Linked DNA regions of Homo sapiens: region 1 is linked to region 2. The links come from fine-mapping of genetic effects on gene expression. A gene starts in region 2. The other region holds a variant in brackets. All regions are shown on one strand. Distances are from middle to middle. Region 1 overlaps EDC4 (enhancer of mRNA decapping 4). Region 2 holds the start of TSNAXIP1 (translin associated factor X interacting protein 1).

Region 1 (4,382 bases), 71 kb after region 2:
TTGTTTTCACTCCATCCTTCCTGTGTTTGTGTGTTCTGGTCACACTAACTGCTGTATAAAGTCTTTCCTGACCCCTCCTATGCCCTCACTCAGTCCACAGAGTTCTTCTGTAGTGACCCAGACCTGAGTATTCACTGCCCTCAAAGGGTCCTTGATGGCTTGTACCCCTCCCCCAGGTAGAAGAGCCTCATGCTCATCCTTGGTCCTGCCTACATCAGTGTTTATGGAACGAGAGATGAACACAGGGCCCTCCTCCTCATGGACATGCTTTGCTCAGTTGAGTGTTCCTAGAGCACCTCATAGTTCTTGAAGGAAACTCTGAAAGGGGAGAGGCTTGTGGGCAGGTCGAGCAACCTTATCAGAATGACCCTCTTTGTCCCCAGGCCCCAGTGCAGAGAGCCCACGGCCATCCAGTGCCTACAATGGGGACCTCAATGGACTTCTGGTCCCAGACCCGCTCTGCTCAGGTGATAGTACCTCAGCAAACAAGACTGGTCTTCGGACCATGCCACCCATTAACCTGCAAGAGAAGCAGGTCATGTGAGTACCTAGGAGACGACAATAGTGGTGATGGTGTATTTGGGGTGTCTGCTAGCTGAAGGCATGAGATGGGGAGTGAGCGGGGCCAGCAGCCTCTGCTGCTTCCTCTCTAGATGACCTGGGGTGGAGCTTGAGCTTGCACTAGGATGAGAGGCAAGGACAAGCTCAGGGGTTTGGCCTGGATACCTGGTTTAGAATGAAAGTAGGCTCATTCCCAAGGAAGGAGATGAGCAAGCAGAGCTGTGGGTCTGGGGCCAGTGGACCAGGCGAAGCTGACATTGGACTAGATACCTTCCCCAGTCTGGCTATGTCCTCGCTTCCTCCCAACCCTGCCCGCTGAGCCTTTGGGTGAACAAGAGGCAAAGTTTTTGCACTCTTCCCCACAGCTGTCTCTCAGGAGATGATAGCTCCACCTGCATTGGGATTTTGGCCAAGGAGGTGGAGATTGTGGCTAGCAGTGACTCTAGCATTTCAAGCAAGGCCCGGGGAAGCAACAAGGTAGGTACTGGGATGCTGTGGCATATATAATGTACGGGGGCACACCCAGCCTTTCCAGTCTCCCTCATGCTGCCAGTTCCTATGGGGACCACCTTGACACTTTCCCAGTTTCAGGAAGCCAGGGCTGGGTGCCAAGCCTCTGTGGGAGTCTGGCTCCAGGAGGTAACAGTGGGTAGCTGGACTTGCATCTGTGTCCTCTCCCATCCCCAGGGATGTTGGGGGCCACCTAGGCTCTGGGGAAGTTCCATGACTTTTCTCACCCTGGGTTCTCAGGTGAAAATTCAGCCTGTCGCCAAGTATGACTGGGAACAGAAGTACTACTATGGCAACCTGATTGCTGTGTCTAACTCCTTCTTGGCCTATGCCATTCGGGGTGAGTAAAGACAGTGAGGAGGAAGGAATGTTCTGCTGGATGTCCCACAGAGCCAGTTCCAACATCAGGCCACTCAGGCCTTAGGGGTACAATGGAAGGTTTGTCCATGCTGCCTCTTGGGGAGCTGGGTGGGAAAACCAAGCTTGAGACTCTGGTGGTGGCAGGGAGACAGGTGGGGCAGCGCTTCTCTGCTACTGCCTGAGCCTGGATACGTATTCATGGTCCACTGCTCTCCTGATTCCAGCTGCCAACAATGGCTCTGCCATGGTGCGGGTGATCAGCGTCAGCACTTCGGAGCGGACCTTGCTCAAGGGCTTCACAGGCAGTGTGGCTGATCTGGCTTTCGCGCACCTCAACTCTCCACAGCTGGCCTGCCTGGATGAGGCAGGCAACCTGTTCGTGTGGCGCTTGGCTCTGGTTAATGGCAAAATTCAGTATCCATTCCTTCCTGTGGGTGGTGGGACTGAAGAAGGGTGGGCGGAGCTGGGGTGTCACGCCTCTTCATTCATCTATCTAGCCCTTAACACCCTGCTCAGAGAAGAGATCTTGGTCCATATTCGGCAGCCAGAGGGCACGCCACTGAACCACTTTCGCAGGATCATCTGGTGCCCCTTCATCCCTGAGGAGAGCGAAGACTGCTG[T/C]GAGGAGAGCAGCCCAACAGTGGCCCTGCTGCATGAAGACCGGGTGAGGGGGCTGACATGGCGAAGAGGCGCCAGAGAAGCCATAGTGTGGGGTTGGGCTGCACACTCACCTCCCTGTGCCTTCCAGGCTGAGGTGTGGGACCTGGACATGCTCCGCTCCAGCCACAGTACCTGGCCTGTGGATGTTAGCCAGATCAAGCAGGGCTTCATTGTGGTAAAAGGTCATAGCACGGTAAGCCTGTGACTGCCTGCCTCCCCTGCCCTCCCCACTTCCTCATATCCATCTTCTGTTCCCTATATCCACAGCTGCCCGGGCAGCTTTACTAGCATTCTGCCCGTGGGGACTCTGAGCTCAAATTGGCCCTCACCTGTGCAGCTTTCTCCTTATCTAGCAGCACCCTGCAGGTCTGGCCTTCTCTAGGAACCCTGTTCATTTAGTCAGTCACACAAGCATGCCAGTCCCACCGTGAGTCAGCCCAGCTCATTGCCATCCTCACTTGGGAGGGGCTTGTTCTCACCTCTAGTCAGCAAAGCTTTTTGGGTTCTTTCTAGTGCCTCAGTGAAGGAGCCCTCTCTCCTGATGGGACTGTGCTGGCTACTGCGAGCCACGATGGCTATGTCAAGTTCTGGCAGATCTACATTGAGGGGCAAGATGAGCCAAGGTAAGGCAGGGCCTCAGGGACCAGGATCCTCCCGAGGTAGCCCACCCGACCACTCACTCAGGCCCCTCATCTGCCTACCTGCAGGTGTCTGCACGAGTGGAAACCTCATGATGGGCGGCCCCTCTCCTGCCTCCTGTTCTGTGACAACCATAAGAAACAAGACCCTGAGTGAGTGAGTGGGCAGCCTAGTGGGTGGTGGGCTGGACCATGGCTCCCAGCAGGGGCCCCAGCCAGTCACTCACTGCCTTGTTGCCTTGCAGTGTCCCTTTCTGGAGGTTCCTTATTACTGGTGCTGACCAGAACCGAGAGTTAAAGATGTGGTGTACAGTATCCTGGACCTGCCTGCAGACTATTCGGTAAGCAGTGGCTGGAAGGCTGGGGGACTGGGCAGGGGCGGCAGGGTTGGGAATGTAGCTTCCTTCAGTTCTCAGGCTCATTCACTCTGCTTTGTGGCTCTCTAGCTTCTCCCCAGATATCTTCAGCTCAGTGAGTGTGCCCCCTAGCCTCAAGGTTTGCTTGGACCTCTCAGCAGAATACCTGATTCTCAGCGATGTGCAACGGAAGGTAGGCTGCCATGGGGTACCCTGGGCAGAGTTGGGATTATAGAGGAAGGCCGGGGGGCAGGTGGCGCATCACAGCCCTTAGCCTCTGAGCTCAGCTAGGAACGTTCTGCCTGTGCAGGTCCTCTATGTGATGGAGCTGCTGCAAAACCAGGAGGAGGGCCACGCCTGCTTCAGCTCCATCTCGGAGTTCCTGCTCACCCACCCTGTGCTGAGCTTTGGTATCCAGGTTGTGAGTCGCTGCCGGCTACGGCACACTGAGGTGCTGCCTGCCGAAGAGGAAAATGACAGCCTGGGTGCTGGTGAGCTGCCTCAGGGTCAGAGCTATGTGTCCATATATCTAGGGGGTTGTGGAGGCACAGAGAGGGCCAGGGGCTTCATCATCCACACTGTCCTTTCAGATGGTACCCATGGAGCCGGTGCCATGGAGTCTGCGGCCGGTGTGCTCATCAAGCTCTTTTGTGTGCATACTAAGTGAGTGAGTGGGGAGGCCCGCCAGTGTCCTGTCTGTGTCTGTCTCCACTCTACTGACCCTTGCCCTTGGAGCACTTTATTCTCCCCCTTCTTTTCCTGCAGGGCACTGCAAGATGTGCAGATCCGCTTCCAGCCACAGCTGAACCCTGATGTGGTGGCCCCACTGCCCACCCACACTGCCCACGAGGACTTCAGTGAGTAGGGCGTGAGAGGGAGGTAGGGTAAGTTGGACTGACCAGGGTCTGAGATCTAACTCAAGTGGCAACTTGCCCTGCAGCATTTGGAGAGTCTCGGCCCGAACTGGGCTCTGAGGGCCTGGGGTCAGCCGCTCACGGCTCCCAGCCTGACCTCCGACGAATCGTGGAGCTGCCTGCACCTGCCGACTTCCTCAGTCTGAGCAGTGAGACCAAGCCCAAGTTGATGACACCTGACGCCTTCATGACACCTAGCGCCTCCTTGCAGCAGGTACTCTCCCAGGGTAGGGGGACCTGGGAATGCCTCAGCCACAGGCCACAGGTCTTATTTCCTGCATCTCCCCAGATCACTGCCTCTCCCAGCAGCAGCAGCAGCGGTAGCAGCAGCAGCAGCAGCAGTAGCAGCAGCTCCCTTACAGCTGTGTCTGCCATGAGCAGCA
Region 2 (4,382 bases):
GGTATGCCAGTTAATTTTTTTGTATTTTTAGTAGAGACAGGGTTTCAGCATGTTTGCCAGGCTAGTCTCCAACTCCTGACCTCAGGTGATCTGCCCATCTTAGCCTCCCAAATTGCTGGGATTACAGGCGTGAGCCACCGTGCCTGGCTCCTAATGCTGACTTTAATGAGGACCTTCCTAAAGTTGATCCAACTAGTAGTGTTCAAGTCCTTGGACTGAAAAACAAGTTTATGAGCAGCAAGGTCACCTGATTCTGATCATGTGTATGCTGTTTACCCTGAGATGACAGGCCGGTGGCCACAGAAGCTTTCATGAATGCTGCAAAGACTCTACTATCTCTTTGAAGGCTACCAGGGCCTCCACATGACTAAATGCCATAAAAAAGAACCTCATGAATACAGCAAGAATGTGAAAGGAAGGAAGTCACAAAAACACCACATGCTCATGAGGGAAACTCCATTCTGGACACTAAATTTTTAAAGTAAACTTGTTACTTGTTTGCCTAACCTTCTAGGTATCAAATTACATCATCACTAAAAATAATCCCTGCTTTACCCCCAACACACCCACTGGCCATCAAGATCTGCTGCTTAGACCAGACCATGCCCACAGTCAGGAAATAATGGCAGCCCAGACCCATGCGGCTCCCCAGCTCACATCAGCAACAAGTGCCAGCCAAAGGACCTGAACTCTGACCACAGGGATCAGCTCCATGATCAGGGAAAGAGGGTGGTCATGAAGGGCTTACCCATCTCTTCCTTTGCTGACAATCTTCACTTCAAAGTAATAAATGCCACAGGCAGCAGGTATGGGGTGGGTGGCACGCACTGAGGCCGCATCTTTGTGATTTTTGCCATGACCTAACAGGAGAGGGCAAGTAAGAAATTTCAGCAGAAGGAAATGCAAATGGAAGCCTCATTTTTCTCTGCAACTCCTCCATGACAACTCCACTCCTCTGTGGCCAGAGGACGCACTTACACAGGCCGAGGAATCATTAGACAACTGAATAAACACTTAAACCTTCCACCTTTGCCTCACCTCCTCCTGAGAACAGCAGTCCTGCCTGAGACACTGCCCATACAAACAAAACAAGGGTAGAGGCAATGTGAGAGATACTCAAGTGCTGCTGGCAGCCTCTCTAGAATCCAGGCAGCCCACCTGGGAGGCCAGGGGAAGAAGGATGAGGCCGACCTGGAAGACACCCCCCAAACTCTAGCACGGAACCCCAGGCTCAGTCTAGGATGCCTGGCAGGTGGGGAAGCCCATGAGTCTCACGCTAATGGTAGGTATGTGACCACCCCTTTCTTCTAAGCAGTGGCGAAAGGTCCCGCTGCCGTTGGCGCCAGCCTAGGATAAGCACGGAGGCCCTGGAGTGGAAGGTCCGGCCCAGCACTGGGTTTGGACACCTGTTGCGGTTCTCTTGACGGCAGGTGTCTCAGGACAGAGAACAGGCAGTCAGCCCTCGGCCTGTTCAGCCTCACCACCCTGGACATCCTGAAAGGGCCAAGCCCTAACTTGGAGCACCTAGGCAGGGAAAGGGAGGTGATAGGGCGGGGGCCTGGCAGCAGAGCCACCCCACGGACGCTCTAGCCTTAATTCCCCCCAGCCTGACGGGCCGATACCTTTGTAGTGGACGCGGAGGTTGCCCTGGGAGAGACCAATGTAGTTGTATTTGTCCTTGGGGCTCCAGGAGCGCGGCAGCGGAGTCTCTTGCTGGTTGACCGCGGGATACAGGCGCTGCAAGCGCCGGCTCAGCTCCTGCTCCCCAGGGGACGGCAGCCCGCCCCCAGCGCCCCCGCCGGAGGAGTCCCCAGGCTGCGGGTTCCCAGCTCCCGGGTCTGCCGTCGCTGCCGCCATCTTGGAGGGAGCTACTATTGTGTCACTGGGGGCGGGGAGGAGCGGGACCAGATCCGCCCCGCTCAGCCAATGGCCCGTGAGCCTCCCTGGGCCGCAGGGAAACCGAGTCCGAGTCCGGCACCCCTCTTTGGACACTGACACGCCTTACCACATTTCGAACTCCATACCCCACAATGCAGAGCTCTCGAGAGGCGGAGCAACTCGGGCTGGTAGAGAATTCTGGGAGATGTAGTATAACCGTCCTCAGCCATAAGCCTGTCCCATCGAGACGTCGGGACACCGAAAACTACCATTCCCGCCGGCAAAGCGGCTCCGGCCTCTCAGCACACTTCCCTCCCCATGGCCTCTGTTCATCCCCCTGCCTCAGTTCTGGTACCTGGGGTCAAATCGGCTGTAGTGGTTGACTCTCAGGGCACCCGCTGCCGGGTCCCAGTCCACCTTTGCTACTTTGTCCTACTCCCAGCCCGCGGGCGCTAGGCTCGGGGGCGTGGCGCATCCCTGACTCCGCCCCCGCCGCGGGGGGGCCTCTGGGGCCTGGTCGCCATGGCGACCGGCTGTACGCTACCACAGCTTCCCAGGCCGCGGGTGCTGATTGCCCGCCTGCCCGTGGGTCATGGCCTGCCAGCAGTCGCGGTACCACAGCTTCTCGTCCGCGTCGAGGTAGGCGCTGGCAGGGATGAGGGCAGAGATGAGGGTTTGAGTACTTCTAGAGAGGGAAATGGCACTTGATCCGGACCTCTGCACCTCCTGCTGGCCTCTGACCATTGATCTAGGGCTCCAGCACCACAGAGTCAATGGTTAGAATCGGGCTGATTTAGCCCAGTGAAGACGTTACGTGCTAGCAAAACGGTAGGCGCACTTTATCATTACTAGTAACAACCAGCTTGTATTGAATGTACTATATGCCAAATGCTTTATATACCACATTTTTAAATATTTTATTTTTGAGACAAGATCTCGTTCTGTCGCCCAGGCTGGAGTGCAGTGGCACTACTACGGCTCACTGCAGCCTCGACCTCCCGGGCTCAAGCGATCCTTCTACCTCAGCCTCCCGAGTAGCTGGGACTACAGGCATGCGCCACTACGCTTGGCTAATTTTTGGGTGTTTCTTTGTTCGTTTGTTTTTTGTAGAGACGAGGTTTCACCACGTTGCCCAGGCTGGTTTCGAACTCCTAGACTCAAGCGACCCTCCCACTTCGACCTCTCAAACTGGGATTACAAGCGTGAACCCCCACACCCGGCCTACGTACCATATTTAATCCTCACAACAACTGTATAAAGTAGTAATATTACCATTGAACAAGTAAAGAAATACTTTAGAAGCCTGGAGAGATCATCCTCTGGGTAGCTTCTGCCTGTACTCAGGTGTATAGCCTCTGGGTACTGCAAAATATGACCAGCTCCATCAGCCTGGAGAGCCATACATACGGATTAAAACAAAAATTTTGGCTAAATCGTTTTCTAGTTTTGGGACTTCAGACAGGGCCCTTCAAGTTCCAGGCCTCAGCTTATATATCTCAAACATGGGAATGATACAGCCCACCCCACAAACATTGTTGGGAACATTTAGGCAGAATATGTGAAGCTCTTGACACAGCTCTTGTATGTAATAGGCACCCAGTAAGTGTTGAATGAATGTAGTGTCCCCCCTTCTACTCATTCCCAGTGGGGGAAAAAAAAAAAAACACCACCCAATCCCACCTAAACTCTTCAGGGTCTGCTGCCTTGACAGAGAAAAGCCTACAAAAGCCCCTAAGAGGCCAGGCACGGTGGCTCACGCCTATAATCCCAGCACTTTGGGAGGCCGAGGCGGGGGGATCACTAGGTCAGGAGATCGAGACCATCCTGGCTAACGTGGTGAAACCCGGTCTCTACAAAATACAAAAAATTAGCCAGGCATGGGGGTGGGCACCTGTAGTCCCAGCTACTCGGGAGGCTGAGGCAGGAGAATGGCATGAACCTGGGAGGCAGAGCTTGCAGTGAGCCGAGATCCTGCCACTGCACTCCAGCCTGGGCAACAGAGCGAGACTACGTCTCAAAAAAAAAAAAAATTTAGCCGGGCATGGTGGCAGGCACCTGTATTCCCAGCTACTTGGGAGGCTGAGGCAGGAGAATCGCTTGAACCAGGGAGGCAGAGGGCAGAGGTTGCAGTGAGCCAAGATCACGCCACTGCACTCTAGCCTGGGCGACAGAGTGAGACTCCGTCTCAAAAAAAGAAAAAAGAAAAAAAAGGAAAAAGAAAAGAGAGAGAGAGAAAGAGAATTGTTACCCAGCACAGGATTAATTTAGTAAACTGCCATTCTCTATGAAAAGGATATGAAGCAGACCCAGAAAGAGAATCCCCATTCATTTTAAGAAAGAAGCACAGGGCTGGTCATGATGGCTCATGCCTGTAATCCCAATACTTTGGGAGGCCAAGGTGGGAGGATCACTTGAGGTAAGGAATTCAAGACCAGCCTGGGAAACATAGTAAGACCCTGTCCCTACAAATAATAATAATAATAATAATAAAAGTTTCAGCTACT

Evidence for each region. PIP is the estimated chance that this variant, and not a neighbour inherited with it, causes the effect. A credible set is the group of variants that fine-mapping cannot tell apart.
Region 1: its variant is the best candidate, but not a certain one, in a credible set for the expression of TSNAXIP1 in cerebral cortex (GTEx, PIP 0.61).

What each region holds. Positions count from the first base shown.
Region 1 is chr16:67,875,562-67,879,943 of GRCh38, forward strand. EDC4 (enhancer of mRNA decapping 4) reads left to right here. Exons shown (of 29, transcript NM_014329.5): 2 at 384-540; 3 at 927-1,038; 4 at 1,312-1,411; 5 at 1,656-1,845; 6 at 1,948-2,095; 7 at 2,180-2,284; 8 at 2,605-2,714; 9 at 2,799-2,882; 10 at 2,975-3,070; 11 at 3,176-3,278; 12 at 3,396-3,576; 13 at 3,676-3,748; 14 at 3,851-3,942; 15 at 4,026-4,213; 1 more. Among named protein-coding and RNA genes, the nearest start is that of EDC4, 4.7 kb to the left of the region's middle. The variant T/C (reference allele first, on the strand shown) is at 2,053.
Region 2 is chr16:67,804,680-67,809,061 of GRCh38, forward strand. TSNAXIP1 (translin associated factor X interacting protein 1) reads left to right here and starts at 2,210. Exons shown (of 16, transcript NM_001288990.3): 1 at 2,210-2,517. The coding sequence starts at 2,471. RANBP10 (RAN binding protein 10) reads right to left here and starts at 1,881. Exons shown (of 14, transcript NM_020850.3): 1 at 1,623-1,881; 2 at 749-860. The coding sequence starts at 1,857. RefSeq lists enhancers at 1,004-1,624, 1,625-2,244, 1,950-2,179 and silencers at 1,600-1,819, 2,320-2,439.